Regions from separate parts of the Homo sapiens genome. Here all the other regions are linked to region 1. Evidence: fine-mapped expression QTL. A gene starts in region 1. Each other region holds a variant in brackets. All regions are shown on one strand. Distances are between the middles of the regions. Region 1 holds the start of H6PD (hexose-6-phosphate dehydrogenase/glucose 1-dehydrogenase). Region 2 overlaps H6PD (hexose-6-phosphate dehydrogenase/glucose 1-dehydrogenase). Region 3 overlaps MIR34AHG (MIR34A host gene). Region 4 overlaps H6PD (hexose-6-phosphate dehydrogenase/glucose 1-dehydrogenase). Region 5 has its middle 21 kb from the start of LINC02606.

What was found.
Region 2: its variant is fine-mapped to the expression of H6PD in whole blood (TOPMed, PIP 0.91).
Region 3: its variant is fine-mapped to the expression of H6PD in whole blood (INTERVAL, PIP above 0.99).
Region 4: its variant is fine-mapped to the expression of H6PD in whole blood (INTERVAL, PIP above 0.99).
Region 5: its variant is fine-mapped to the expression of H6PD in whole blood (INTERVAL, PIP above 0.99).

Annotation. Positions count from the first base shown.
Region 1 is chr1:9,232,086-9,238,248 of GRCh38, forward strand. H6PD (hexose-6-phosphate dehydrogenase/glucose 1-dehydrogenase) reads left to right here and starts at 2,689. Exons shown (of 5, transcript NM_004285.4): 1 at 2,689-2,981. RefSeq lists a silencer at 2,542-3,101.
Region 2 is chr1:9,255,274-9,261,436 of GRCh38, forward strand. All of the region lies in intron 3 of H6PD (hexose-6-phosphate dehydrogenase/glucose 1-dehydrogenase), which reads left to right. Among named protein-coding and RNA genes, the nearest start is that of H6PD, 24 kb to the left of the region's middle. The variant T/C (reference allele first, on the strand shown) is at 3,259.
Region 3 is chr1:9,167,750-9,173,912 of GRCh38, forward strand. The region is part of intron 1 of MIR34AHG (MIR34A host gene); the gene reads right to left. Among named protein-coding and RNA genes, the nearest start is that of LNCTAM34A, 11 kb to the right of the region's middle. RefSeq lists enhancers at 1,783-2,284, 2,285-2,784. The variant C/T (reference allele first, on the strand shown) is at 2,509.
Region 4 is chr1:9,267,836-9,273,998 of GRCh38, forward strand. It overlaps H6PD (hexose-6-phosphate dehydrogenase/glucose 1-dehydrogenase), which reads left to right. Exons shown (of 5, transcript NM_004285.4): 5 at 1-3,502. Among named protein-coding and RNA genes, the nearest start is that of SPSB1, 22 kb to the right of the region's middle. The variant T/C (reference allele first, on the strand shown) is at 3,350.
Region 5 is chr1:9,404,775-9,410,937 of GRCh38, forward strand. No RefSeq gene overlaps it. Among named protein-coding and RNA genes, the nearest start is that of LINC02606, 21 kb to the right of the region's middle. The variant T/C (reference allele first, on the strand shown) is at 2,708.

The DNA.
Region 1 (6,163 bases):
AGAAAAGCTTCAGACAGGCAAAGGTGCAGAAACCAATGCCAGGGCCCACAGGGACAAAGTTTTCGATTTTTGTGTTTTGGGTGGCAGTACTCTCACACCAGGATGACTGGGTCTTAGCACGACCTAATCGTCTTCATGATGGAAAGAAAGCAAAGCAACTGATTGCCCAGAGAAAACTGGAAGGTACAGAGGCAGGATGAGACTGAGGTGAAGGTAAGGTGAGGAAAGACAGGCGGAGAAATGAAACATCTCAGGGTGGTGTGGGAGTGGACATAGGGTTGGGAGGGCATTGTGACCCCCTAGGCTAATTCCCCCCTCAGACCCCACCCCAACGTTACCTAATCAGGTGGACGTTTTCTTAGTAAGCAGGTTACAACTGACTTGGTTTGGGGCTTTGTTTTTTTTTCTTTTTTTTTTTTTTTGAGACCGAGTTTCACTCTTGTTGCCCAGGCTGGAATGCAGTGGCGCGATCTCAGCTCCCCGCAACCTCCACCTCCCAGGTTCAAGCTATTCTCCTGCCTCAGCCTCCCGAGTAGCTGGGATTACAGGCATGCGCCACCACACCCAGCTAATTTTGTAGTTTTAGTAGAGACATGGTTTCACCATATTGGTCAGGCTGGTCTCGAACTCCCGACCTCAGGTGATCCACCCGCCTCGGCCTCTCAAAGTGCTGGGATTACAGGCGTGAGCCACCGTGCCTGGCTTTTTTTTTTTTTTTTTTTGACACAGTTTCACCCTGTTGCCCTGGCTGGAGTGCAATGGCGCGATCTTGGCTCACTGCAACCTCTGCATCCTGGATTCAAGCGATTCTCGTGCCTCAGCCATCTGAGTAGCTAGGACTACAGGCACGCCACCACGCTTGGCTTTTTTTTTTTTTTTTGTATTATTAGTAGAGATGGGATTTCATCATGTTGGCCAGGCTGGTCTCGAACTACTGACCTCAGGGGATCCACCTGCCTCGGCCTCCCAAAGTGCTGTGATTACAGGCATGAGCCACTACGCCTGACCTGGGGCTATTTATAAGAAGCCCTCAAGGTAGCAGATCACCCTCTGATGGCCACATGGAGATCTGGGAAACGAACCCCCGGTCATGCCTCTGGACACCTGCCCACTTCTATCTGTGCCTTCCTGGGCCCTGGTTTTCAGAGCTATGTGGGTGCCTGACACACTCAGGGCCACAGAACATGGGAAGGGCTCTAGGCCAAGAGTCCCGGCATCATTCGAGTCTGCTCTGGCCCGCTCCTGCCCTAAGCCCTCCTGCTCACTTCCAGCTGTGGAGGTAGCCCAGAGAGTGCCTGGCTCCCTGGCTCCCCCCTCTGCCAGGCCCACTCAGTGTGACCTAAATCCTTGCCGAGGCTTGGCAGCCCTCTGCGGGCGCCCGGATGGCCTCTGGCCTTGGTGACGGTGAGGCCCAGCTCCCCTCAGTTCCCAGCCTTCCCGGAACCCCTTGCCTAACATCCTGTGTGGTAATCATGCCTGTTGGCCCCATTCAGTCCTGCCGGCCACTGCCAAGTTGCCACTGCTAGTTCCAGACGCTCCCACCTCTAATGGAACCATCGGGAAATAAAAAGCTGCAGCACAGTTTCTCTCTCAGGTCAGAATCTCCTCCCAGCACTTTGGGAGGCCAACGTGGGAGAATCACTTGGGCCCAGGAGTTCGAGACCAGCCTGGGCAACAAAGTGAGACCCCGTCTCTACAAAAAGTTGAAAAATTAGTCAGGAGTGGTGGCGAACATCTGTGATCCCAGTTACTTGGGAGGCTGAGGCGGGAGGATCACTTGAGCCTGGGAGGCGGAGGCTGCAGTGAGCTGTGATAGCGCCACTGCACTCCAGCATGGGTGACAGAGCGAGACCCTGTCTCAAAAAAAAAAAAAAAAAAAAAAAAGAAAAAAAGAAAAGAAAAGAAAGAAAAAAGAAAAAGTGGGGAGCAGGTTGGGGAGCATGGTGAGGGCCACCTACTGCCTGATAATGGTGGGGGACAGGAAGGGGACTGAGTGCTCTGAGAGGCAGCTGATCCCGTTTTCTCACTTAAATACCTCTCACCCTACAGAGAAGCCCTGATTCCATTTGCTGTCTTTCTTAGCAATGTCTTAGCAAAAGTCTTCTATTTGCCACACGGGTCCAAGCTTCCGCTTACTAAGCACCCAAGTGCCAGACAACCCCGGAGGCAGGTACTCCCATTGTCCCCACTGTACAGATGAAGAAACTGAACTCAGGGTCACACAAGTGATAAGGGGTGGCAGAGATCTGAAGCTGTGCGCGGAGGCGTGGCCAGCGTGTGCGCTCCGACTTCTAAATCCCTACTCTGGATATTGAAGACGGGAAAGACCGAGCCGCTCATTCTACAGATGGGGAAAAGCGAGGCCTGAGGAGTCCCAGAGCGGGTGCCAGATCGTAGGGAGCAGCCAGCACCCCGGGTCCCCTCCACGACACAACCACGTCCCTCGGCCACTTCTGGGTCCCGCGCGCGTCTCGGACGCGGCAGGACAGCTCTAGGACGCACGGCCACCAGGGGGCCGAAGGGAAGGGCGGGGGCGGAGGCTCGGAGCTGACCCACCGCCTCGCCCCGGAAGCTCCGAGGCCCCGCCCCGGCGGCCGCCAGCGGAGGGCGTGGCCTCGCCGGCGCCCCCGCCCCGCCCCCGCCCCCGCCGCGCGCGCCCCCGCCGCGCGCGCCCCCGGCCCGGGCCCCAGTCTTGCTGAGCGCAAGGCGGTGGAGGCCTGAGGCCTGAGGCCTGGGGCGGGGTGGCGGCCGGGCTGGCCTTGGCCTCGCGCCTTCCCCTGCGGCCGCCGCGGGCTCCGCGGGCGGTATCGGAGTGTCGTGCGGCGCGTGGCCGCGTGACACGCGCACTTGTCGGAGTGACGGGCCCTGCGGAAGAGGAGGTGCGGCCCAGGGCGCAGGGGAGCCCTCGGGAGCGGGCCCGGCCCTCAGCGCCGCCCCGGCCGTGTCCCGGAGGAGCGGCCTGCGCCGCCGCGCGAGAGGAAGTAAGCGCCCCCCGCCGGCCCCGCCGCCGCCCCGGCCCCGGCGCCTCCAACCCGCGCTGCCGCCGGGCCCGAGGCCGCGCCGAGCCCCGGAGCCTGCGCTGCCAGCCCCACGGAGCCTGGGGCTGGCGGCTTTGGAACTGCTCAGGAGGCGGCCAGGCTCCCTCCAGGGTCGCCCCGAGCGGCCGAGCTGTCCTTTCCCTGGGCTTCCCGGAACTGAGTTCCAGGAGAGGGGGAACTCCGAGATTTCCCCCGGGACCTGCTTAATCTTTGGCATTGATTGGCCCTCGGGTTTCACATAGCGTTTCCCGTACCCGGATCTAGTGAACGGTTTTCCAGGGGCAAACCTCTCTGGATCTCTGAAAATCAGCTCACCCAACCTTGAATGCTTAGCCAGAAGTGAGAACTTCTGGAAAGAAGTGTCCTTGCCCACTCCCCCTGCACCCACAACAGGCCCATGGCTCATGAAAGGCAGCAGATGAGGGAAAACTGGTGTCAAATGGGCATATTTTTTATTTTATCTTTTTACTTTTTTATATAAAAGTAAAAAATCTTTTACTTATAAAAGATGGGGTCTTGCTTGGTTGCCCAGGCTGGAGTACAGTGGCACAAACACGGTTCCCTGCAGCCTCCACCTCTTGGGCTCAGGCCATCGTCCTGCCTCAGCCTCCGGGGTAGCTGGGACCACAGGCGCACACCACCACGCCTGGCTAATTTTTAAACCTTTTGTAGAGACAGTGGTCTCACTATGTTGCCCTGGCTGGTCTCGAACTCCTGGGCTCAAGCGATCCTCCTGCTTAAGCCTTACGAAGTGTTGGGATTACAGGTGTGAAGCACCACGCCCAGACAGCGTATTTTAAATTATGCATCATATCCCTTTAATTTTTCATCATTATGATTGGAAGATCATGAAAAGCTGTCTGAGTTTTTCCTTGGCATTTTTCTGTGGTTGATGGTTAGTTGTTGCCCAAGCTGGAGTGCAATGGCGCGATCTCGGCCCACTGCAACCTTCTCCTCCTGGTTCAAGCGATTCTTCCACCTCAGCCTCCTGAGTGGCTGGGATTACAGGCGCGTGCCACCACACCCGGCTAATTTTATGTATTTTTTAGTAGAAACAGGGTTTCACTATGTTATCCAGGCTTGTCTTGAACTGCTGACCTCAGGTGATCCACCACCTCGGCCTCCCAAAGTGCTGGGATTACAGGCATGAACCACCGCGCCCAGCTGGTTAGTTGGTTTTAACAGCAGTTCAAGAAGCTAGCAAGAAGGACTTCATTCGTGAAGCTAATGGTTTAATGATAGAAACTAACATTTCTGGCCGGGCCCAGTGGCTCACGCCTGTAATCCCAACACTTTCGGAGGCCAGGGCGGGCAGGTCACTTGAAGAGTTCAAGACCAGCCTTGCCAACATGGTGAAACCCCGTCTCTACTAAAAATACAAAAATTTGCTGGGCATGGGGGCAGCGGATGCCTGTAATCCCAGCTGCTGGGGAGGCTAAGGCAGGAAAATCGCTTGAACCGCCCTGCCTCCGGTGACGGAGGTTGCAGTGAACCAAGATCGTGCCACTGCACTCCAGCCTGGGTGACAAAGCTAGACTTCTCCTTAAAAAAAAAAAAAAAAAAAAGCAGCTAGGATTTCTTGGGTGCTTACTGTATGCCAGGCATTGTGCTAAGTACCTTACATGCTTCCCATCGATTTGTTTTCCCATTCTGTGGTTGAGGTACAGAGAGGTTAAATAACTTGTCTGAGGGTACATAGTTACTGAGTGGCAGGGATTTGAATCCAGAATATTCTTATGTAACCAGTTCTCCAAAAACTAGCCCTTGAAGGTCTTCCACGTTTCAACAAAGCAACTGAGGCTTATACATGATGTCTTCATGATGTCAGAAGGAAGAACTGTGAAAGGCAAAGCGGACCCGGGAGGCAGAGGCTGGTTACCGCAGTTAGTGTTCGGAACAGCTTGACTTCATGGAGCAGAGAAACAGCCTGTCTGGTTTAAACCACTGTTCAGTATCTACACTGATACAGTGTAAATGTAATACAGTGTTTTACATTTTGCCATTCAGGGATGTAGTCACATTTTACGGGAAGGTTAGCTCTGGGACCAGACTGCCTGTATTCAAATCCTATCACCTCTAGCTGCTTGACCTTTGGTAAGTTATTTGACTTCTCTTTTTTTTTTTTTTTTTTTTTTTTTTGAGATGGAGTCTTGCTCTGTTGCCCAGGGGCGCAATCTCAGCTCACTGCAACGTTCGCCTCCTAGGTTCAAGTGATTCTGCTCCCTCAGCCTCCCAAGTAGCTGGGATTACAGGCACCTGCCACCACGCCTGGCTAATTTTTGTATTGTTAGTAGAGACGGGGTTTCACCGTGTTGGCCAGGCTGGTTTTAAACTCCCGACCTCCAATGATCCTCCTGCCTCAGCCTCCCAAAGTGCTGGGATTATAGGCGTAAGCCACTGCGCCTGGCCATGTTATTTGACTTCTCTTTGCCTTAGTTTCCTCTCTACTCCCTGCTAAGATGGGGATAATCATGTTACCTACCTCATATGGTTGTGGCAAGATTTAAATGGTGTGATGCATGTCACACCGATAGCCTAGCATTTGGCATATAGTTAAATACTCCATAAATAGCTCTTTTATTATTAAAAGTGTTGTTCCAAGTAGTAAGCTGCTGCTGTGTGCTGTGTCACAGTGCTTGAAGTCACCATTAGAGGTATATTCCTTTGTGCCGTATTTCAAATGCAGAAATGACAGTGGTCCTGTGCAAATGGGATTTATTTGTTCATTTAGCAGATATTTATAGAGCGCCTTCTGTATGCCAGGCCTTGTTTTGGATACTGGAGGTACTGCGGAGAACAAAACAAACAAAAGTCCCTGTCCTCATTGGCACGCACACTCTTGGGAAAAGGAATGGCAGACAATAGGCAAAATGAATGTAATTATCATACAGTATATTAGAAAGCGATGTACTGTGGGGAGAAATAAAGCAGGAGAGGAGGATGGGGGTGGGCGGTTTACAATTTTAGAGTGGTCTGAGTAAGCCTCACTGAGAAGATGACATTTTAGCAAAGAAAAATTAGTGAGGGAGTAAACCACGTGGACCTGGTGGGGGACATGGGGGAGTTGGCCAGGCGGAGAGAACAAGTGCAAAGGCCCTGAGGCAGGAGGCTGGGCGGCCAGAGCC
Region 2 (6,163 bases), 23 kb after region 1:
TATTTATTTTTTATTTTTTATTTTTGGAGACAGGGTCTTTATCTGTCGCCCTGGCTGGAGTGCAGTGGTGCAATCATAGCCCACTGCAGCCTCGACCTCCTAGGCTTAAGTGATCCTCCCACCTCAGCCTCCCAAGTAGCTGGGACCACAGGTGTATTTCACCATGCCCAGCTAATTTTTGTATTTTTTGTAGAGATGGGGTTTTGCCATGTTGCCTAGGCTGGTCTTGAACTCCTGGACTCAGGAGATCTGCCCACCTCAGCCTCCCAAAGTGCTGGGATTACAAGCATAAGCCACTGTGCCAGGCCTTAGGTCCCTTTCAAATGCAAGATATTCCTGATTTTCCTGTTCTATTATTGCAGGGGAAGGGAAGAATTGTCTTTTTACATTCTCCCGAAAAGGAGAATTGGAAGATTTGGTCACCCTGGGCCCACACTCCTGTGAGGCACCACCTGAATGCACCTGAGGTACTTAACTGTACCTCTGAGGGACACCAGCCTTACTCCATCCTTTTCGCTTTTGCTGGCCCCGGTAGGCATTGGAATCTCTGAGCTTTGCCCTAGACCCCTCCTTCCAGAAGCTCAGCCGGCTTCTTCATTGTGCTCTGTTTCTAAAGGCCAGTGGTGCCCACGCCACTCAACTTCACACCGTTCTGTTGTAGGGTTGAAGAGTGGGTAATTAAAAGGGAAATGTTTTGGTGGTAAGAATTGCAGGCTCTGGGTCGAACTGCCTGGGTTTGAAGCTATTTTTACCTCTTTACCAGCTGTGTGTGACCTTGGGTAAGTTATCCAACCTCTCTGAACTTCAGGTTCCTTATATTTTAAAATAGGGGAAATAGAGGGGCCTCCTTATATGTTGTTATTCTGAGGATAAATGGACTGATCCACAAACATTGCTGGCATCAGTTTCTCTTTTTCTGGATGTCTTCTCAACAATAGCACAAGAACTTGAAGGCCACAACACTACAGAGCTGGGGGATCTCAGCCATTGTTTTCCCAGTGGAGACCACTCTTGGCATTTTGGTTGGCACAGTTGGGCTGGACTTCCTGCTCATTTCAAGGTTTAGTATCCCTGGACAGAGCTGCACCCTCTAGCTCCTGGTTGTTATGGCCGGGGACAGAGTGCCTTCCTACGAGTGGCTGCCGGCTTCATTTCTTGCCCCCCAACACTGGTGCTGCTGTCGGGAATGGCATATCGGGCTGGATTCAGGGCAGGTTGTTCCCCCAGCCATGACCTGGACATGCTTGCTGTCTGGTTGGCCCGAGAGTGCACACCACCAACCTGGTCAGGGCAGGTGCCCAGGACTGGCGCCATGGACCCAGAGTGGCTGCTGGGAGGGGAGCATGCTGGGCTCAGCAGGCCTGAACTTAGGATCTGCTGCTTTTTGTCTGTTGGAATTAAATGTTAACTAGATACTAGGTAAATTTAAAGTTTACAGAATGCATGGAAGAGATACAGAACTATGGTATAAGAAACGGGGATGCACCTACCACCCGTTTTTAAAAAAGAATTTGATTCTCCTGCGTGTCCCTCCCCACGTTCTGACCTATTTCCTCATCTTACACTTCCAAATTGTGGATAGATTATTCCCTCGCTTCTCTTTCTGTTTCCATGCACGCCTGGTTCCCTAAACAACCTGTTGTTTAATTTTGAACAAGAGTCATCCTGTATGTGTCCGAGCATGGATCTTTTTGTCTCTGTGTCCAGCATTTGGGAGAATCGCCTCAGCTCTGTCTTCTGCTAGCTGACTCTTTACAGCTGTTTCTCATCTGTAAGGCCCATCTACTGAATTTCTAGTTTCCAATTATATTTTTCATTTATTGAAGTTCTGTTTATTTTGGTCACTTTATATCCTGTTTTCTTTTTCTTTCTTTTTTTTTTTTGAGACAGGGTCTCATGCGGTGTTGTCCAGATGGGGTGCAGTGGCAGGTTCACAGCTCACTGCAGCCTTGACCTCCTGGGCTCAAGCAATCCTCCCACCCCAGCCTCCCAAATAGTTGGGACCACACTTGGCTAATTTTTTTTTTTTAATTTTTTGTAGAAACAGGGTCTCACTTTGTTGCCCAAGATGGTCTTGAACTCCTGGACTCTGGGCTCAAGTGATCCTCCTGCCTTGGCCTCCCAAAGTGCTGGGATTACCAGCATGAGCCAGTCCGCCTGGCCTATATCCTATTTTCAAGTTAATTTTTATTTTATCAAAGTAATCATGTTGCTTTCTCACCACATTACGTCTTGGAGGTTTATCCGTGACAATGTGTGGATCTTCATTTTCTCTGCTGTCCACTGTCTGAACGTAGTGCTGTGTTAGGGGCTAGGGATGCAGCAGAGGGCAGATGCCACTCAGATGGAGCCTCCCTCGTAGTGGGGAAGAAAGAGAAACAGGCCTGAATTACAGTCAGCTGGGCTAGAAGAAGCCAGGGCCCCTCAGAAGGGGTAGGCCAAAGCTCCTAGAAGCTGAGCCCTTAAGGATGACTGGGAGTTTGCTGGGTGAACAAACAAATCCCAGGTTAGGGGTCCTACGTGCAGAAGCCTTTGAGAAATGATGGCTCCTCGTGTCTGAGGCCAGGCTCTCTCTGTAGGTGAGGGTGTGAGGAGACTTGGGCATTGGAACTCTCCTGCGAGGTGGTATGCGTTGGAACCCTGATCTCTGGGACTGTCCTGTATATTCGAGTCACCGATAATCAGTGCTCACCGGGGTTCAGCCTCAGAGGAGGGAGTGGAGCGGAGCTCGTGGTTAAGCAGTGTCTGCTTCTGCCCCCGCGCCTGGTCACCTGCCTCCTTCCTCACTCGCGGAGCAGGAGTGATCACGGTGCCTGCGTGCAGGGTCTTTGTGAGTATGGGGAGGAGCGGCGCGGGCCGGGGCTGCTGTCAGCGTTGGTGTTGTTATGCTGGTGTTGTTACGTTGCTATTGTTACACCGGTGTTGTTACGCCAGTGTTGTTATGTTGCTGTTGTTACGCTGGTGGTGTTATGTTGGTGTTGTTACATCAGTGTTGTTACGTTGCTGTTGTTACACCCGTGTTGTTACGTTGTTATACCGATATTGTTACGCCAGGGTTGTTACATTGTTGTTACACCAGTGTTATGTTGTTGTTACACTGGTGTTGTCATTCTTATCCCAGTGTTGTTATGTTGTTATGTCAGTGTTAATGTTGCTGTTGTTATGCTGTTGTTACACCAGTGTTATGTTGTTGTTACACCGGTGTTGTACACCATTGTTATGCCGGTGTTGTGTTGTTACACTGGTGTTATGTTGCTG[T/C]TACACCAGTGTTGTTACATTGCTGTTAAGCTGGTGTTATATTGTTATGCTGGTGTTGTAACATTGCTGTTAACACCGTTGTTATGTTGCTGTTATGCCGGTGTTGTGCCAGTGTTATGCCGGTGTTGTTTTGTTGTTGTTACGCTGGTGTTACATTGTTACACCAGTGTTATGTTGTTGTTACACCGGTGTTGTTATGTTGCTGCTGTTACATCGGTGTTGTTACATTGTTATGCTGGTGTTGTTATGTTGTTGTTACACCAGTGTTGTTACATTGCTGTTGTTACTCTGGTGTTGTTATGTTGTTGTTATGCTGGTGTTGTGTTACTGTTGTTATGTTGTTGTTACGCTGGTGTTGTTATGTTGCTGTTGTTACATCGGTGTTATGTTGTTATGCCAGTGTTACATTGCTGTTACGATGATGGTGTTATGTTGCTGTTGTTACACTGATGTTTTTTGTTTGTTTGTTTTTGTTTTTGAGGCAGAGTCTCGCTCTGTCGCCCAGGCTGGAGTGTAGTGGTGCGATCTCAGCTCACTGCAAGCTCTGCCTCCTGGGTTCACGCCATTCTCCTGCCTCAGCCTCCCAAGTAGCTGGGACTACAGGCGCCCGCCACCACGCCCAGCTAATTTTTTGTATTTTTTAGTAGAGACGGGGTTTCACCATGTTAGGATGGTCTCGATCTCCTGACCTCGTGATCCGCCTGCCTTGGCCTCCCAAAGTGCTGGGATTATGGGCGTGAGCCACCATGCCTGGCCACACCGGTGTTGTTATGTTGCTGTTGTTACACCAGTGTTGTTATGTTGTTGTTACACTGGTGTTGTATGGTTACACCATTGTTGCGCCAGTGTTGTGTTGTTGTTACACTGGTGGTGGTGTTACAACAACTTGTTGTTACACCAGTGTTATGTTGCTGTTAAGCCAGTGTTGTTATGTTGTTATGCTGGTGTTGTTATATTGTTGTTACGCCAGTGTTGTTACGTTGCTGTTATGCTGGTGTTATGTGGTTGTTACACTAGTATTATGTTGCTGTTATTCCAGTGTTGTTACATTGTCACACCAGTGTTGTTACGTTGCTGTTACAATGGTGTTATATTGCTGTTATTAAGCTGGTGTTACGTTGTTGTTATGCTGGTGTTGTTACATTGCTCTTAACACCGGTGTTATGTTGCTGTTGTTACGCCAGTGTTGTTATATTGTTGTTACACCGGTGTTATGTTGCTGTTGTTACACTGGTGTTACATTGTTGTTACACCAGTGTTGTTATGTTGCTGTTGTTACGGTGGTGTTATGTTGTTATGCTGGTGTTGTTTTGTTGTTGTTATGCTGGTGTTACGCCGGTGTTATGTTGTTGTTACACCAGTGTTATGTTGCTGTTGTTACGCCAGTGTTGTTACGTTGTTGTTATGCTGGTGGTGTTATGTTGCTGTTGTTACTCTGCTGTTATGTTGTTGTTACACTGGTATTATGTTACTGTTGTTATGTTGTTATGCTGGTGTTGTTGCACTGCTGTTATGCTGGTGTTATGTTGTTACTCCGGTGTTGTTACGTTGCTGTTGTTACGCCGGTGTCGTTATGTTGTTACGCCAGTGTTGTTACGTTGCTGTTAGCTGGTGTTATATTGCTGTTGTTAAGCTGGTGTTATGTTGTTGTTATGCTGGTGTTGTTACATTGCTGTTGACACTGGTGTTGCTGTTGTTACGCCAGTGTTATGTCGTTACACCAGTGCTGTTATGTTGTCGTTACGCCAGTGCTGTTATGTTGCTGTTGTTACGCCAGTGTTGTTATATTGTTGTTACACCAGTGTTATGTTGCTGTTGTTACACTGGTGTTGCATTGTTGTTACACCAGTGTTGTTATGTTGCTGTTGTTACGGTGGTGTTATGTTGTTATGCTGGTGTTGTTTTGTTGTTGTTATGCTGGTGTTATGTTGTTACACCAGTGTTATGTTGCTGTTACGCCAGTGTTGTTACGTTGCTGTTGTTACACCAGTGTTGTTACGTTGCTGCTGTTATGTTGCCGTTGTTACTCTGCTGTTGTTATGTTGTTGTTACACTGGTGTTGCACTGCTGTTATTCTGATGTTGTTATGTTACGCCAATGTTGTTATGTTGCTGTTGTTACATTGGTGTTGTTATGTTGTTGTTACGCTGGTGTTGCTGCACTGCTGTTATGCTGGTGTTGTGTTGTTAGGCTGGTGTTGTTATGTTGCTGTTGTTATGCTGGTCGTGCTGCTCCATGTTCTCCAGGTGTTCTTCCCTTTTATCGTCACAGTTACCCCGTACACCTGACAACTGGACATCTGCGCCTGGGGGTCTTCAGCCTAAACACACCTAAACCCTCCACCAAACCCCTCTGCTTCCGCCTCCCCGTGTCTGTGAGCGCCTCCACTGCCCATCCCTCTGCTCAGGCCCCACTTCCAGGGCTCATGTTGGGGGCCTCCATTTTGCTCACACCCACCCCATCTGTCAGCAGGTCCAGTCAATCCTGACTCTGGGGTGCCTCTCCCTCCCCTCCAGCTCCTGTACTGCCCATTAGTCCAGGCCCTGTCGTCTCTGCTGGGCAGCTGTGCAGCCTCTTCCTTGCCTTCCCTGCATCTGCACCCATTCTCCCCCCAAGACCAGGGGTCGATCCCCAATATAGGTCAGGTCTCGTCTTCTCCTGCCTCAGATCCTCCAGTGTCCCCCCTACAACTGATCTTAGAAAAAAGTCCAGCCTCTTCGCCTTATCCTGCAAGACCCCTGATCTCCTCTCCAGCCTCACCGCTGTCCCCACTCTTTGCTCACCTCCATCTGGCCCCCAGCACACCAAGTTCCTTCCTGCCTCGGGGCTTTGGCACCTGAGGGTCCCTGCAGCTGAGATGCTTTCTCCCTGGCTTTTTGCGAGGCTGGCTCTTCAGGTCTCGGAG
Region 3 (6,163 bases), 64 kb before region 1:
TGCCTGCACGCCCACTTTATCACCCACTTTCCAACCTGCAGAACTGCCGTCTAATTTTCCATTTACAACTGTTCCTCCACCTCAGGCCTCAGCATTGTTTCTGCAGCTTCAACTCCTTACTCCTCTGTGCTGTGAGAGCTCTGTGCTCCCACCTCTGGCTCTGTCACCCACAGCCAGTGTGAATAACTCACAAGGTGTCACCAAGACCTTCCACCTCCCCAGGCTCTCTGTTGTGCAAAAGGGATTCACACACCTAGAGACAGGGCTGGAGCTGGGTGGCCATGGGACTGACCTAGAGGGACAGCTCATATGCTCCACCATTCTTGAGGGCATCTACTTCCCAGCTAACATGTAAAGCAAGAAATTCAGACCAGGCACGGTGGCTCACACCTGTAATCCTAATGCTTTGGGAAGCTGAGGTGGGAGGATCTCTTGAGCCCAGGAGTTTGAGACCAGCTTGGGCAACACAGGGAGAGGCCATCTCTAAAAAAATATTTTAAAATCATCCAGGTGTGCACCTGTAGTCCCAGTTACTCAAGAGGCTGAGGAGGGAGGATCGCTTGAACCCAGGATTTTGAGGCTGCAGTAGGCTATGATCACACCACTGTACTCCAGCCTGAGCAACAGAGCAAGACCCTGTCTCTAAAAATAAAATAAAATAAATGCAATGTGGGCATAACATCATATTTTGAGGACATACTATACATTGAAAAATGTCAAGGAAAATGGATAGGTTGATAATATTCAAAATAATCTAAAGTGTGTGTGTGTGTGTGTGCATGCGTGTGTGTATGTGTCTTTAGTTCAAGAATATATGGTGCAGGGCTGAGCACAGTGGCTCATACCTGTAATCCCAGAACTTTGGGAGGCCAAGGCCGGCAGATCACTTGAGCCCAGGAGTTCGAAACCAGCCGGGGCAACATGGTGAAACCCTGTCTCTAAAAAATAAAAAAAAATTAAAAAAAGAATATATGGTGCAAAGGCAAATAAAAGCAATGTTTCCAGTGGGCTAGATGGAGAAGTCCCTTTGCTGCCTCTCTGGGTCACATGGGAGAAGCACAGTTCCCTGTAGCCCCCATCCGGGGTCCTGGTACTCTGTAAAGGCTGCCAGACCTGGGGGTGAACCAGTGATCTGGGATGCAAGGGAGCAGGCAGTGGAAGAGACAGGAGCCAAGCAGATACAAGTTCACCACACTGGGCCATGCGTTCCTGGAGGAAACCTACTTCCTTCCATCCACAGGGAAGGGACTCAACACAGAGTGTTTTTATAAAGAGTGTCAGGACCCAATGTCTGAATGTGGGGGGATAGCCCACGGCTGGCCCAAGGAACATGTGTGGACCACCAAGCGCTGTCCTCTCTCTTCCTGTCCCCATATAGAGATGATTTGCTTTCCAATCACATCTACAAGTACTCGGTGTCTTTGGCCCTTGCCTGACCCCTGGTTCATGGCAAAACCTACCCTTGGGTAAATACCAGATGCCCTGATGTGGAATGGGTTGGTGCCGCAGGAGACTCATCTTCAGTGGATTCTGCATTTGAATATGGAATACATTTTCTTTTCTTTTCTTTTTTTGAGACAGAGGCTCGCTCTGTTGCCCAGGCTGGAGTGCAATGACATGCTCTTGGCTCACTGCAACCTCTGCCTCCCGGGTTCAAGTGATTCTCCTGCTTCAGCCTCCCAAGTAGCTGGGATTACAGGTGTGCACCACCACACCCGGCTAATTTTTGTATTTTTGCAGACACGGGGTTTCCCCATGTTGGCCAGGCTGGTCTTAAACTCCTGACCTCAGGTGATCCACCCGCCTCGGCCTCCCAAAGTGCTGGGATTATAGGCGTGAGCCATGGTGCCAGGACTGGAATACATTTTCTATCTGGCTTAAGCCAAAAGAATGAAGCTCTAATGGCTGAATTTCAGCCACAAACCAGCTCACTGAAGGAGATTGGGTGGAGGCAGGCAGCATAAGGGGAGGTGTCCCTGAGCTCACAGACCAGGGCCCTCCTCACTCAGATGCTGGCTCTATGCCCCCCAGGCCTTCTGGGGCCAGCCTCTCTGCCTTGAGGCCCCACCCTTCTAGCTTCACAAGTAACTCTTACTCATCCTTCAGGCCTCGGTTAAGCGCCCTACAACCCCCCTCACTCAGCTATGGGCTCCCAGTGCCCACCCCAAGCATCACACGTCTCCCTGCATCATGGTGGCCAACTCGCTTGTACCTCCCTCTCACCAGACTGAGTGTCAGCTTCCTGTTCCTACTCCCAGCACCTAGCCCAGCAGACAGGACATAGTGAGTGCCAGTAAAGGTCTGTTGAGAAAGCACAGGAGGAGGAGTGGGCAAAAAAAGACGGGCAGCGCTGCCAGCCAGCCTGCGCTGTCAGCGGACCGCACGTTCCAATCCTTCAAGAGCTTAATGATCAGGCTGAGCCTCAGGTGTTTAGTCTGTCGTCAGCCCAGAAAACACAGGTGAGGCAGCAGATGGGAAAGTGCTTTAAAAACTGTAACTGGGGCCGAG[C/T]GCTGTGGCTCATGACTGTAATCCCAGCACTTTGGGAGGCCGAGGCAGGTGGATCACAAGGTCAAGAGATCGAGACCATTCTGGCTAACATGGTGAAACCCCATCTCCACTAAAAATACAAAAAATTAGCCAGGTGTGGTGGCAGACACCTGCAGTCCCAGCTACTCAGGAGGTTGAGGCAGGAGAATCGCTTGAACCTGGGAAGTGGAGGTTGCAGTGAGCCGATATCATGCCATTGCACTCCAGCCCAGGTGACAGTGTGAGACTCTGTCTCAAAAAAATTATAAAAAAACAAAACTGTAACTGCAGGGAGTCACACTTCCATTTCAGACCATCTTTGAGTACACCTAATTTTTTTTTAAAACTGAGACTTGCTCTGTCACCCAGGCTGGAGTGCAGTAGCACGATCTCAGCTCACAGCAATCTCCACTCCTGGGTTCAAGTGATTCTCCTGCCTCAGCCTCCCGAGTAGCTGGGATTACAGGCACCCGCCACCACGCGTGGCTAATTTTTTGTATTTTTAGTAGAGACAGGATTTCACCATGTTGGTCAGGCTGGTCTCGAACTCCTGACCTCAGGTGATCCACCCACCTCGGCCTCCCAAAGTGCTGAGATTACAGGCGTGAGCTACCGTGCCCGGCCAAGTACACCTAATTCATAAGTTGACAATGATTTGGACTTTTCACAAGGTTATTTGGCAAGTTGGCTGCTTGCAACTAGGAATGCCACGCCCCAAAGTCACAATACCATAAGTGTGGCAGGTTTGTAGGCTCAGCCAGGACAGTCCATTGTACTGTGGGACCTCAGATATCCAGCAACATGGGGCATCATCCCCTCGTGGGTCAGGGTGCCTCACTTCACTTATTCCCCCTTGGCACCTAGCATGATGGGGAGCCAGGGCCAATACCTGGATAACCAGTGAATGAATGAAAGGATGAGAAGTAATCCAAAAACAGCAGCAATAGCAATATCAACAGCGGCCCCACTACGCGTCAGGCACTGTTCTTCATTCTTTTACTGCGTCACTCATTGCAGTGGACTGAAAAACACCCTGGAGAGATAGCCACATCAAATCCCTGCAACCAGAGCATGTGGGTCTTTGCGGAGCTGATTAAGATTATGAGATGAGACCATCTTGGATGATCTGGGTGAGCCCGAAGACAGGTGTCCTTAGAAACAGAGGCAGAAGGAAATTTAAGACAGTCAGAAGAGGAGAAGACACAGACACACAGAGAAGGCCACTGAAAGAGGCAGAGACTGGAGTGATGCAGCCACCAGCCCAGGAATGCTGGGACAGTCACCAAAGCTAAAGAGAGACAAGGGAGGCTTCTTCCCTAGAGCCTCCAGTGGGAGTATGGCCCTGCTGGATTTCAGATTTCTGGCCTCCAGAACTGTGAGAGAATAATTTAAGCCATCCAGCAGCCACAGGAAATTATTATACTCCTGGAGTCACGAATAAGCTCATTCACAACTGCAATGGGGTTGTTACAGAGAGACAGGGTAGGAAAGCAGCCTCTGGGCTGGGCACGGTGGCTTATGCCTGTAATCACAGCACTTTGGTGGCTCATGCCTGTAATCACAGCACGTTGAGAGGCTGAGGTGAGTGGATCGCTTGAGCCCAGGAGTTCAAGACCAGCCTGGGCAACATGGCGAAACCCATCTCTACAAAAAAAAAAAAAAATTAGCCAGGCATGGTGGCACATGCCTATAGTCCCAGCTACTTGGGAGGCTAAAGTGGGAGGACGGCTTGAGTCTGGGAAGTCAAGGCTACAGTAAGCCATGATCACCCCACTGCACTCCAGCCTGAGCAACAAAGCAAGACACTGTCTTAAAAAAAAGAAAGTCTCTGAGCAGCTCAAACTCCTGCGCTCAAGTTCCTGTCCCTCCTCAGAACATACTGTTACCCTCAACATGGTGTTTTGTTAATATCTCATATTCTGTTAATCAATACTCTCCTTGGATAAACACTCACTCCACTCCCAACTTCACAGCTGAAATTCAATATCAAGTAAATAGCACAACTAAAGCTAAGCTAAAGGAAAGTGATGAATCAAAGCAATGCTTTGTTTCCAAATGACCTCTGGCCCCTCATTCTGACATTGGGGTGAGGCCCAGCTTGCCCTTGAACTCCACTGTATGAACTCATTTTTTATTTTTTTTTCACAGAGTCTCACTCTGTCGCCCAGGCTGGAGTGCAGTGGCATGATCTTGGCTCACTGCAATCTCCGCCTCCCAGGTTCAAGCAATTCTGCCCCAGCCTTCCGAGTAGCTGGGATTACAGGTGCACGCCACCACGCCTGGCTAATTTTTGTATTTTTAGTAGAGATGGGGTTTCACCATGTTGGCCAGGCTGGTCTCGAACTCGTGACCTCAGATGATCCACCTGCCTCAGCCTCCCAAAAGTGCTGGGATTACAGGCACGACCCACCATATCCAGCCTGAAGAAGCCTCCCTTGTCTCTTTTTACCTTTGGTGGCTGTCCCAGCATTCCTGGGCTGGCTGCATCACTCCAGTCTCTGCCTCTGTCTTTCAGTGGCCTTCTCTGTGTGTCTGTGTTTTCTCCTCTTCTGACTGTCTTAAATTTCCTTCTGCCTCTGTTTCTAAGGACACCTGTCTTAGGGCTCACCCAGATCATCCAAGATGGTCTTATTTCAAAATCTTAACCTAAATAGGAATGAGGGTTCCTGACCCCACAGTAATTTAGAAGCAGCAACTTGGAAGGGAGGGAAAGGTTTGCTGAAATCAGATTCACCGGCAAGAACAAGGAAAGACAAGTGAGAGAAAGAGAACAAGAGAAGAAATGGAAATTCTATAAACCACATTCGTGACACTTAAAAAAGCCCTGCCACCTGAGGCCAGGTAAAATTGTGTTTATTCTGTTTTAAGAAGAGGGAAGCATGAATTATATTCTGGAAAGACTTCCAACCAAAAACGAAACAATTGAAAAGTGCCGGTACAGGGAGGAATTTTTTTTTTTTTTTTTTTTTTGAGGCAGGGTCCCGCTCTGTCACCCAGGAGGGAGTGCAGTGGCACAGTCATGGCTCACTGCAGCCTCAACCTCCAGGGCTCAAATAATCCTCCTGCTTCATCTTTTTTGATTTTTTTGTAGAGACAGTGTTTCGCCGTGTTGCCCAGGCTGGTCTCGAACTCCTGGGCTCAAGCAATCCTCCCTCCTCAGCCTCCCAAAGTGCTGGGATTACAGGCATGAGGCACCGCACCCAGCCAGGATGAATCTTTAGCTGTCTAAAACACTTGCTGGGTGCGGTGGCTCACGCCTGTAATCCCAACATTTTGGGAGACTAAGGCAGGTGGGTCACTTGAGGTCACGAGTTCAAGACCAGCCTGGCCAACATGGTCAAACCTCGTTTCTACTAAAAATACAAAAATTAGCCAGGCGTGGTGGCATGCACCTGTAATCCCAGCCACTTGCAAGGCTGAGGCAGGAGAATCGCTTGAACCTGGGAAGCGGAGGTTGCAGTGAGCTGAGATCATGCCATTGCACTCCAGCCTGGGAGTCGCAATGAGACTCTGTCTCAAAATAAAATAAAATAAAATAAAAATAAAACACTCAAGGTTTCCCAGGAACCTGTCTGCCTGGTGTTGAGGCTCCTGTTCAGAGGTATCTTGTGCCCCAAAGACAAACCACCTCAAGGGG
Region 4 (6,163 bases), 36 kb after region 1:
TCAGTCCATTTGTTTACAACTGTGTTCCAAGCAGGTTTCATAAAGAAATTCTTAACCTTAGAACCTCGGATATCCTCTATGTTTTAGTTTTCATTTTTTTAAAATGCTTCTTAAAATTCACTAAATTGGGCTAGGTGTGGCTCATGCCTGTAATCCCAGCACTATGGGAGGCTGAGGTGAGAGGATCACTTGAGCCCAGAAGGTTGAAACCAGCCTGGGCAACATAGTGAGACCCCATCTCTACAAAAAGTTTTAAAACCAGGTATGGTGGTGCCCTCCTGTGGTCCCAGCTACTCGGGAGTCTGAGGTGGGAGGATCACCTGAGCCCAGGAGACTGAGGCTGCAGTAAGGTGTGATTGCACTATTGCTCTCTAGCCTGGAAAACAGAGTGAGACCCTATCTCAAAAAAAAAAAAAAAAAAAAAGGAAAGAGTGATGACAACAGCCCAGGGAGCAGCCCCGCTCAGAACCCAAGTCCCAAGTTCCAGCACTGTGTTCCCAGGCAGGCTGTTTGCCTCTTCCTGGTCTGGAAGCCCTTGGGTCCTATGGTGGCGGCAGCTCCCACAGTCCAGGTTCCCTGGTGGGGACCAATGATTCCATCCGCATGGAAGCCCACGTGTGCACTTAGGGGCCCATAAATGGCAGAAGGGCCCCTCCTTTGGGAGACCTTGTCAGTCAGCATCTCTAGGGCAACCGTGATTGCCATTTGTAGAGGGGAAGGAATCAAGGGACTTTAAGCTAGATCAAAATCTGGGGACAAATTCTCCTGCTAACTGCAAGTTAAAATAGGCCCTTCTTACTGAATTTCCCTGTTTGTTTCTCTGCAGACAATGCTTTAGCCCTACTCTTGGGCCCCCAAGTTAGCAGAGTAATCAAAGCTTCCTACCGTTTGGCCTACTATTCCAGACTAGTCCCTCGAGGGGTTCCCTTCCAAAATATGCAGGGCTCAGGCTCCCAATTCCGGGCCTGTCTGCTTTGCTTGTGTTTCTCCTGTCCCTGTTCTCCCGGAGGGCCCAGGTGGAACTCACGACAGGGAGGGAGACGCTTCCCAAAAACCTGCAGGGCTATTTCCCAGAATTTGGTTTTCAAGTACAAAACTTTTTGTCCTGTAAGATATATGCAGCCTCACAGAAGCAGCCTCTGCCTCCACTTTACCAGCTACGTTTTTATCTTAAGCACATGGGGCTCCCTTAGAACTTACTCCACTGATTTAAAAAAAAAAAACTGCCTGGCAGCATCTCAGTGTCAGAGTGAGCACGGCACAGGAAAGGCCCGTGGTGACGAGGGTGAGGTGGCCACAGTGACCGGACGACAAATGAGACTCTGCAAATGAGACTCCAGAGGGTGAAGATCTGCGGTCTCCAGACATCATAGGCCATGTGACCCACTAGGGGCCGCTTACCCCTGGCCGTCCGCTGGCTGAACTGAACGCATTCCCTCTCTCCGCAACTCTCCCGTGAGGCTGCACCCGTGTGGGTAGCACTGGAAGCGGCACTGTTTGCATTGTACATAGGAAGGAAGGAAGTTCTTCCAGCCTCACCAGCACCTGGCAGCGAGTCAGAGCCTGTGAGGGCATCCGAAGCAGTGATGCAGTGTCAACCTCCCAGCTGGTGCCACTCTGCCCTCGGGGGCTCCAAGCATTGTAACTCAGTCATGGGAGCTGCCTCTTTGGAAGTGCAGATTTATTCCTGTAATAATCCTGCCTGCTTTTACCTCTCGTCCACTGACCAGCAAGTGTGAGTCCCGGTGTCAGTCGGCACAGTCCAGTGTCCATCTGCATTTGCTCATGCAGAGGGGGTGAGTTGGGCACTCCCTGTTGTTGGTTTTCCTTTTGCAGCACACTGGGCAGTCTCCCTATAAAACAAAAACCCCACCTTCTGTGCCTTCTGCTTTAGAGCAGAGCTCCCCCTCCCATTTCCTCAGTCTTCCCTGCAAAATCTGTCCACCGGGGAAGGCAGCAGGAACCCTGGGCAGCGGGTGTTCTGGGAAGGCTAGTGACAGCAGATGTCATCCAGGAACAGCCACACACGGTTCTCCAGGCCGCCGTCAGCAGCTCAAGGTGGGGTATGAGTGAGAAGCTGAGGATCTCGCAGCTTGTTGCTGAGCAAGGTGCAACCGGGCTCATGCTGTCATCAGCACAAGACGGGATGGCAAGGGCTTTCAGACGCATTTCCAAGAGTCCAGCAAGCCAGGGGGAAGATGATCCCTTTGCCGAAGTGTACCCTCTAGCCAACTTTTGGGAGCGCTTCTGTTTGCAAAGCGCTGGGGATGTGCCTGTCTCTGTGTGACCCACGAACGGGAAGGGAGAGCACTGGAGTAATGACACTTCTGCTGCTGCTTTGATTCTCAAGGCTGATCTTTAAAACCCTCGCCTTGCTGACAGGTGCTTTAAAGGCAGTCTGCATCTTTTCTTCCCTTGGTGTGGGAGAGGTAAACACTTTGATTTGCTGAAAGCTGTATGGAGTATATTTGAACAGCTAGTAGTTAGCTTTGAAAGTGGAAGTGTGAACAGACACTACTTGTGTCGCTTTGGGTCCTTCACTTTACCCCCACAGAAGTCTAGAGGCGTCTGTTATAAAGCGTTACGGGGCGCCTGCATGCAGGAGGAAGGACCTGTATTAGCTGGAAATCATCAGGAACCCAGCTTGCCTCCATCTCTCTGAGATGTGCTGGGTACAGCCTGCCCCTCCTAGTTCTGTCCACCGGGAAGAGCCGGCTGGCGGCAGATCCCCAGGGGCAGAGCCCCTGCTGGATCCTGGGAGCTCATCTTTACCTGTGCCGGAGTGGGAACTGTGATTCCAGCCGGGCAGGTCAGAGTGGAGCAGTGCTAAGAGGCTGTTGCAGGAGAACTAGACGGGCGGGGCCTGCTGCATCTGGATCATGTTTCTGTGCTCTGCCCCGCGCTAGGGACTCAGGGTCTGGGCTTCTGCCAGGTGAGGAGCAGAGAGACTGTTCCCTTGGGTGGAGAGGTGTGGGCATGAGAGCCACCCATTGCCAAGCAGCAAGAATGTTCGTGCTTTTTTCCAGAGAGGGGAACCCCACTGGTTTTTGTGGAAACAATGGAAACTTACAGATGCCTGCCTGGGATGATGAGGCACATTCAGAACAAATGCTTTTTTTTTTTTGAGACAGAGTCTCGCTCTGACGCCCAGGCTGGAGTGCAGTGGCGCGATCTCGGCTCACTGCAAACTTTGCCTCCCAGGTTCAAGTGATTCTCCTACCTCAGCCTCCCGAGTAGCTGGGATTACACCACCATGCCCAGCAAATTTTTGTGTTTTTAGTAGAGACGGAGTTTCACCATGTTGGCCAGGCTGGTCTCGAACTCCTGACCTCAGGTGATCCATCCGCCT[T/C]GGCCTCCCAAAGTGCTGGGATTACAGGCGGGAGCCACCATGCCTGGCCAGAACAAATGCCTTTTTAAACCTTTTAAGAACATTTTTAAAATGTCTTTTTCTATGTCAAATGTAACGTTTATTTTTTTAAACAATAAAATTGATTTGCCAAAATCCGGGCTTTAATTCTTTATTTGGGGCATGAGGTGTAGGGGTTTGTGGGCCCCAGCGTCATGCTGTGTGTGTTCTTGGAGGAGGGGAGGGCTGCCGTGAGTGAGGGCCCTGAACCGAGGACAGCCGCGTGCCTGTTGCGAGTGTAAGTGTGTCTGACTGAGCAAGCCAGTGCATTCCGTTTGCAAGAGGGTCTGTGGGCCTCATGGGAGAGAGAGCAGTGGGCAGGATGATCTCATTTCATAGACTCCCAAGCAGTCTAGGAAGAGTCCCCCAACCTTCCCGGCAGCCCACTGGAGGGGAAGGAGCTCACCCCTGAGTGGGAGATCGGGAGGGGAGGGTCTTTGAGGACACCAGAGCCTGATGCCTTCATTTGTCTTCTCTCCTGTCCCTTGCCTGAGTCCTACCTCCAAGCTGTGTCACACTCCCAGGAATGTAAGTGTTTTGGGGAAGTCAAATAGGATTTCAGGACCACTTGAGGTACAGAAGTTAGAGATTTGCAGGTTGTCACCAACAGCATGCAGGACCCACACAGGCTTGGTGACATCACAAGGTGGCAAAAGGAGCAGCGCACACATTCGAAATAGGTGAGCTCTGGGCAGGGACCCCATGGCAGAGGGGACAGAGACGGGTGAGACATGCCCAGAGCCTGCAAGGGAAGATGTCACGAAGGCCAGAAACCAGAGCTGCAGTGACCGTCCCTGCCTGTCCCTCAGATGGGAGGCGCGCGGGGGATCTGCTGCTTCCCGGGGGGTAGCCCAGGGCGTCCCCTCCCTGCTTCTCTGTGGTGATGGCTGCTGGTTCCACAGTCCTCACAGAAACATGGCGGGGCAGGACTGTGGGACCCAGCCAGCGTCTGTGAGGGCTGCACTGGAGGGTCACCTGGTGTCCAGCCCCCGTTTGGGGACCCTCCCATACATGTGTTCTGGGGAGTTCCGATGGCAGGCATGGGGCGTGTGACCCAGTGCTAGCCGATCAGGACATCCAATGCCCACAGCCGCAGCAATGGGATCTGGGAGGGCTCAGGGCCCAAACTGGTCAAATCAGAGTGACCCCGAGGACTCAGGCTGAAGCGGCACCATTTCTCTGGACTCAGGCCTTGGTGAGCTGCAGCAGCCATCTCAGCGCCACGGAGGCCTAAGGACAAGGCTGGCATGGAGGAGAGGAGAGCCCCAGGATCCCACTTCGGGGGCTGTCTCTGGGACCTGATTCCAGTCTCCTGAAGTCAGCCTGCGGGCCTCGTTTCTGGGTGCCTAAACTACCTTGTAGCAGCAGAACTTAATAGATACTGGAGCTAGTAGCTTTGTTATGTATTTCCGGAAGCCCAGCAGAAACCCCACACTGACCTAAGTAAGAAGGTGATTCTCATGAACCAAGAGGACAGATCCTTCTGTTTGGGGTCAGGGTTTCAGCAGTCCAGTGTGGCAACACCAGTTGGGTGGCCCCTGCTGTGCAGCATCAGTTTCTTCTTGCTTAATTGGAACTGTTTTCCTGATAGACCATAGTTTTGGAGATGCAGGGACAGATGGAAGGGCAGGAGGGGAAGAGTTGCGCAAATCATAAAAGAAGCCGTGGTGAAGACAAGCTCAGGAGCTGCCAGCCTGAGTCCACCTTCTCCAGGGTCTCTTACAAGCTCTTTACAGACAGCCAGAGCCCGGGTGGGGTCAGCCAGCTGCCCCTCGCCACCCAGCTCCCAGCAGAAGGGGAGGGGATGCGGCTCCACCCATGCCCTCTCTTACCCCCATCTTCCCACTCACCTGTCGGGCTGAGGACCACGAAGGCAGAGACTCCATACATTCTGCTCCTTTTCGTGTTTCTGGCACTTTACACGCCGCCCTGCAGTGAATGTGTGAGTGAATGAATGAGTGAATGGCAATAAGGAAAGAGAGTGGTCAGCAAGGCGGCTGGAGGGGTGGAGGCCTGAGCGGGTGTGGGGCCAGCGGTGAGCCTGGCACGTGTCATCCTCTCTAGGGGAGGGAGGGTCTAAGCACATGGGTCTCCTGTGCCCAGAGTGGCCAGGGCCTAGGGGTGCAATGGATGTGGTCCAGCCATGGCAGGCCACCACGCTTGTTGGCACCGTGGGATAGGGCCACGCAGAAGCAGGGCAAGGTCTGACCCCCGCTCCTGACAGCTCCCACTGGCTGCTGATGGAGAGCAAAGCCACGGTCAGCGCCCACTGCTGGACGCTGCAGCAGGGATGGCAGCCAGGGGGGCCCCCAACAGCTTAGGGCTGCTCTGTCCCCCTGGAGAGGTCTCACTACAGCCCTTTCCTTTCCCCCGTCCCCACTCACTGGCTGCGGAAACCCAGCCTCATGAGTTCTGTTTGTCTGAAGAAGCATCGTTGGGAGGAAAAATTATCAAACTAAGCTCATGCTATCAGTCAGGCCCTCCTCCTACTCCGTATGTCTTTATTTTTTTACTGAAAAAAATAAAATACAGTAAGCACTCGGATGAGAATATTAATCCATGGAGATTGCCCCCTTCAGCATTCACTGTATGAGGCCTTTTTATATTTGCTTTTTTAAAAGAAAAAAATATATATATTTTTTGATGGCAAAAACCTGGACACACATATTTTTGTAAAAATCACACATGCTTGTTACAAATGCATTGAAACAGTGCAGAAAAGTACACAAATGTGTGTAAAGAAAATCACTGTCGTCC
Region 5 (6,163 bases), 170 kb after region 1:
GATTGCCCAGAACTCAACTGAAAGGAGGCCACACATTTCAGCCTGGGTTTCTATGTCCCCTTGTGTCTTGTTTATTTATCCTTGGGGCAATCTGGGTGGTTTGGTCCGTGGGAGTGGGATGGGCCACCCTCCCAAATGCTGGGTGTCTGGTCCCGTACCAGCTCCCTGCAGGCGAAGCCCGTTCTGCCATCGTGTAGCCTTTCAGCACATAATTGCTGAGCTCCTGCTGTGTTCTAGGCATCGTTCTAGATGCTGGGAAGATAGCAGAAATAAAAGTCCAGTCTATAGGAATAATAACTTCTTATTGTCATAAATAATTATTGTATAAAGATACATAATAGCATACGTGACGATCATGCCTACCATTTATTGAGCACTCAGGATACACCAGACACTGTGCTGAGTGCCCCATGTCCCCTGTAATCTTCACAACCACCTCTGTTTAGTATTAATATTACCGTTTGATAGATGGGACAACAAGGGCTCAGAGAAGGAAGGTAAGTGGCCACCCAAGATCACAGCTTATAAATGTCAGGGTCAGGGTTTGAACTCAGACCTGGGGCCTGTACTTCCAAACTCTCAGCCTGCAACTTGCCAGAGTCCAGCTTGCCCTTTGGTGGGTGGGGGTGATAGAGTTGGAGGCCCCATCCTGTTCAGGTCCAGCTCTGAACCTTATAGGCCTGGCCTGACACCTCCATTGCTCTGTGTCCTCCCGATCCTGGACTCCTCCTTGCATCTGGTTCTGACCCCAGATTCCTGCTTTCATGCTGAGCTCAGCCCAGCCCATCTCACTCAGCAGCTAACCCACCCAGAGGGATGGCTGGAGAGAGGGAACGCTGGCCAAGGGACCAGCTCAGGCAGGCGCTGGCAGTGTAGAGTTGCCAAATGTTGTACGGCACATACACTAAAAAGTTGTTTGTGGGCTGGCTGCCGTGGCTCTCGCCTGTAATCCCAGCACTTTGGGAGGCCAAGGTGGGTGGATCACTCGAGGTCAGGAGTTTGAGACCAGCCTGGCCAACATGGGGAAACCCCATCTCTACCAAAAATACAAAAAATTAGCAGGGCGTGGTGGTGCATACTTGTAGTCCCAGCTACTTGGGAGGCTGAGGCAGGATAATTACTTGAACCCTGAAGGCAGGGGTGCCAGTGAGCTGAGATTGTGCCACTGCACTCCAGCCTGGGTGACAGAAGGAGACTCCATCTCAAAAAAAAAAAAAAAGTTATTTATGGATTATCTGAAATTCAAATTTAACTGAGTGACCTGTATACTTGCTAAATCTAGCTACCTAAGGGGTAGGGGTGCAGAACACTGTGAGGGGATTTCAGCTATGAGGGGGCATAAGAAGGGGGTTTGGATGAAATTCCCCAGGAAGGGTGTCCTCAGATATTCAAGAATCTTTCATTCCTCCCTTGTAGACGTTCAGGTGCAAGCTTCCTGTCTCCTGATCATTTTCACTCCACCAACATGTGCTTATGTGCTTAACTAGAGAGCCGCGCTTAGAGTCACTATTTACATATCTTCCTGATCAGGCCCGTCTGTTCCTGCACCTGCTATCACCCCACAACCACCACCACCAACTCCAGCAGCCCTCTCAAGTTTCCAGGGCCTGTTTCTTTCGCCAAGAATATTCTTGCTCTCCACTCTGCCTTTCTCCTTGGAGCCCTCCCGCACCCCCAGCCCGTCTGTTGCACCCTGAACTTCCTGTCATCACACTGATTACACTCTATTACAATTGTGTCTGGACTTTGGGAAGGTCCTAGCCTGGGAGCCCCCTCCTGAGACACACACACACACACACACACACAATCCCCACTGCAGAGGATTTACAGACACCCCTCTTCCAAGCCCATTCATAGACCCCAGGTCGATGTTGGAATTTCCTGGTTACTTCATTATCTCCCATGAAACTACAAGCTCCATGAGAGCCTTGTTCACCACAGAGCCTGGTCTGGAACATGGTAATCATCCATAACAATCCATTCCAGTATCAACAAACTATCAGCAAAGGTAACAATAGTCTATATTAAGTATCAAGAAAGATAAATGGCCAGGCACGGTGGCTCACGCCTGTAATCCCAGCACTTTGGGAGGCCGAGGCATGTGGATCACCTGGGGTCAGGCATTTAAGACCAACCTGGCCAACATGGTGAAACCCCGTCTCTACTAAAAATATAAAAATTTGTGGTACACACCTGTCGTCCCAGTTACTCGGGAGGCTGAGGCAAGGGAATCGCTTGAACCTGGGAGGTGGAGGTTGTAGTGAGCCGAGATGGCACCACTGAACTCCAGCCTGGGTGACAGAGCAAGACTCCATCTCGAAAAAAAAAAAAAAGATAAATGAGCTGTGTGACCCAGCCCAGTGTTGGTGCAGACCAGATGCTTCTTGAATGCTGTTTGAACGATGCTTCTTGAATGCTGTTTGAACGAATGAACAAATGACTCAGTGCAAATGACCCAGAGCTCAAATTTTGTCTGCTGGGCTGGGCTCACTCAGAGTGTGCTCCTCAAGGCCTCCCCTGACCCCCAACCACAAGAAGTCACCTAGGCCCTGATCCTGCCCTTCCAACCTGTTCAGTCCAGGTTAACCTGGGGTTCCTGGACCAGCTCCCAAGATGGGTGGGCACTGGATCTGCCCAAACCAGGTGGCTCCCCCCTGGAGTTCCCAGATACCTCACCTGTGCCCAGAACACGCCCATCCAAGGTGTC[T/C]TCATGGGAAGGGACAGTGGGACCTCCAGGCCATGATTACAAGAACTAGTTCTGGCCAGGGGTGGTGGCTCATGCCTGTAATCTCAGCACCATGGGAGGCTGAGGTGAGAGGATGGCTTGAGCCCAGGAGTTCAAGATCAGCCTGGGAAACATAGTGAGACCTTGTCTCAAAATAAATAAACACATAAATAAATAAAGTAAAATAACTCAGCCAGGCACATTGGCTCATGCCTGTAATCCCAGCACTTTGACAGGCCAAGGCAAGAGGATCACTTGAGCTCAGGAGTTTGAGACAAGCCTGGGCAACATGGTGAAACTCTGTCTCTATCAAAACTACAAAAATTAGCTAGGCATTGTGGCACATGTCTGTGGTCCCAGCTGCTTGAGAAGCTGAGGCAGGAGGATTGCTTGAGCCCAGGAGGCAGAGGTTGCAGTGAGTCCAGATCGTGCCATGGCACTCCAGCCTGGGTGATAGAGTGAGACTCCATCTCAAATAAATAAATAAATAAATAAAGTAAAAGAACTAGTTCTGGCTGGGCGCAGTGGCTCATGTCTGTAATCCCAGCACTTTGGGAGGCCAAGGCAGGCAGATCACGAGGTCGGGAGTTCGAGACCAGCCTGGCCAATATGGTGAAACCCCATCTCTACTAAAAATACAAAAATTAGCCGGGCATGGTGGCATGCGCCTGTAATCCCAGCTGCTCAGGAGGCTGAGGCAGAGGAATTGCTTGAACCCGGGAGGAGGAGGTTGTAGTGAGCCGAGATCATGCCACTGAACTCCAGCCTGGGTGACAGAGCGAGATTTAGTCTCAGAAAAAAAAAAAAAAGAACTAGTTTCCACCTCAACTCAGACACACATGTCGCCTTTCCAAAGGGTTCCAGCCACAGGGCCATCGCTGAGCTGACATCGTGGAGCCCTGTCTCTGTGGTAAGAATTTTCACATCCATGGCCACATTCTGTGCTGTGCGGGGTAAATGCTGAACAACCAGCTATCTGGAGGGCAGGTTGGGGTGGGGGAGAGTACACATACATATGTGAACATAGAGTATAAATCCTACCACAAATAAGTGCTTGATTACTACCTGACCCAACAAAAGAAATAGCTCATAGTTTTTTTTGGTTTTTGTTTTGTTTTGTTTTGTTTTTTTTGAGATGGAGTCTTGCTGTGTCACCCAGACTGGAGTGCAATGGCGTAATCTCAGCTCACTGCAACCTCCACCTCCCGGGTTCAAGCAATTCTCCTGCCTCAGCCTCCTGAGTAGCTGGGATTACAGGCGCCCAACACCACACCCGGCTAATTTTTGTATTTTTAGTAGAGATGGGGTTTCACCATGTTGGTCAGGCTGGTCTCAAACTCCTGACCTCGTGATCCACCCACCTCGGCCTCCCAAAGTGCTGGGATTACAGGCGTGAGCCACTGAGCCTGGCCCAGAAATAGCTCATGGTATTGATGAGTGAGTGTGATTCTAATATGAGGGTTGATTGGCATTTTCATGTATGTCAATGAGTAAGAAACAGTGAAACAAAAAAGACATTCGGCAGGCCCTTTAAATCTGTGGATTTCACATTTATGGATTCAACTAACCATGGATCTAAAATATTCATTCAAAAAAAATGGACGGTTGCATCTGTACCAAACATGTACAGACTTCTTATTTTTGTCATTATTTCCTAAACAATACAGTATAACAACTATTTACACCGCATTTACATTGTATTAGGTATTATAAGTAGTGTAGAAATGATTTCAGATATACGAGAGGATATGTGTAGGTTATATGCAACTACTACACCAATTTATATAAGGGATTTGAGCATTCGTGGATTTTGGTATCCAAGGGAGGGTCCTGAAACTAATGGGTCCAGATGGGACAACAAGGGCTCAGGGAAGGAAGGTAAGTGGTTGCCCAAGATTGAAGCTTATAAATGTCAGGATCTGAGGTCGGGAGTTCAAAACCAGCCTGACCAACATGGAGAAACCCCGTCTCTACTAAAAATACAAAATCAGCCGGGCGTGGTGGTGCGTACCTGTAATCCCAGCTACTTGGGAGGCTGAGGCAAGATAATTTCTTGAACCCGGGAGGTGGAAGTTGCGGTGAGCCTAGATTGCGCCGCTGCACTTCAGCCTGGTGACAGAGTGAGACTCCGTCTCAAAATAAAAAAATAAATAAATAAATGTCACAGCCAGGGTTTGAACTCACACCTGGAGCCTATGCTTCCAAACTCTCGGCCTGCAACTTGCCAGGGCCCAGCTTGCCCTTTGGTGGGTGGGAGTGATAGAGTTGGAGGCCCCATCCTGTTCAGGTCCAGCTCCAAACCTCACAGGCCTGGCCTGACACCTCCACTGTTCTGTGTCCTCCAGGTCCTGGGCTCCTTCTTCCACCTGGGTGGCTGGGTCTGGGATACCAAGGGACAACTATATATTGGAACTTTACTTTTTTTTGCTAAATTGGATAACAGCTTTGAATACTGGGAGAATAGTTCCTTATCTTTTGTACTATTCACAATGTTATTGCTAGAAGTACAATTCACTTTCAAGTTTAATTTGCAATATTAACTTTTTGTTTTGGAGTCTCACTCTGTGGCCCAAGCTGGAGTGCAGTGGCACAATCTCGGCTCAGTGCAACCTCCACCTCCTGGGTTCAAGTGATTCTCCTGCCTCAGCCTCTCAAGTAGCTGGGGTTACAGGTATGCGACACCACACCAAGCTAATTTTTGTATTTTTAGTAGAGACAGGGTTTCATCATGTTGGCCAGGCTGGTCCTGAACTCCTGACCTCAGTGATCTGCCCACCTCGGCCTCCCAAATGCTGAGATTACAGGTGTGAGCCACCGTGCCTGGCCAATATTAACATTTTCTCCATTGCTTTCTTAAATCTAGAAAATCAACAAAAGAGTAAAGAAAGCCCTGGCTGAGAGCATTTGCCCATTTCTGTGGTGTAAATACTCCCAGCGCAGTTGGTTTTGAGGTCCCAGAGTGACATTGTTGAATGTGGAGTTGGGAAGAGGTGTTCAGTAGCCACCATTACTAGCACTTCCACAAGGCAGAGACCATGGATATAAATAACCTCAGGGCATAGGTAAAATGTAGTAAGATAATTAGGAAGCCAGGAGTCTTGAGTCTTTAGAGCTTTGTTTTTAATATAATTTATTTAATCGTAAGTGTATAGAACTTAATTGTTAATGATGGCTGTATTTACAAACTGGCTCCAATGATTTCTGAAAATCATCAGTCAACCCTCCTGAGTCAGTACAAGTCAGCTCCACCGTGCCGTGAACCCATTCCCCTACAGCTCTATAGGAAAGGTCTTACTAGCTCTATTTTACAGCTCAGGAAGCTGAGGCTCAAAGGCCACAGAGCAAGGCCTTGAGTGCAGGAGGGCTTAATGCTGAGATGATTGGAGTCCTGCACAAGTTACTTAAGTCGGGTAGCGTGAGCAGAAACTGAACCACAAG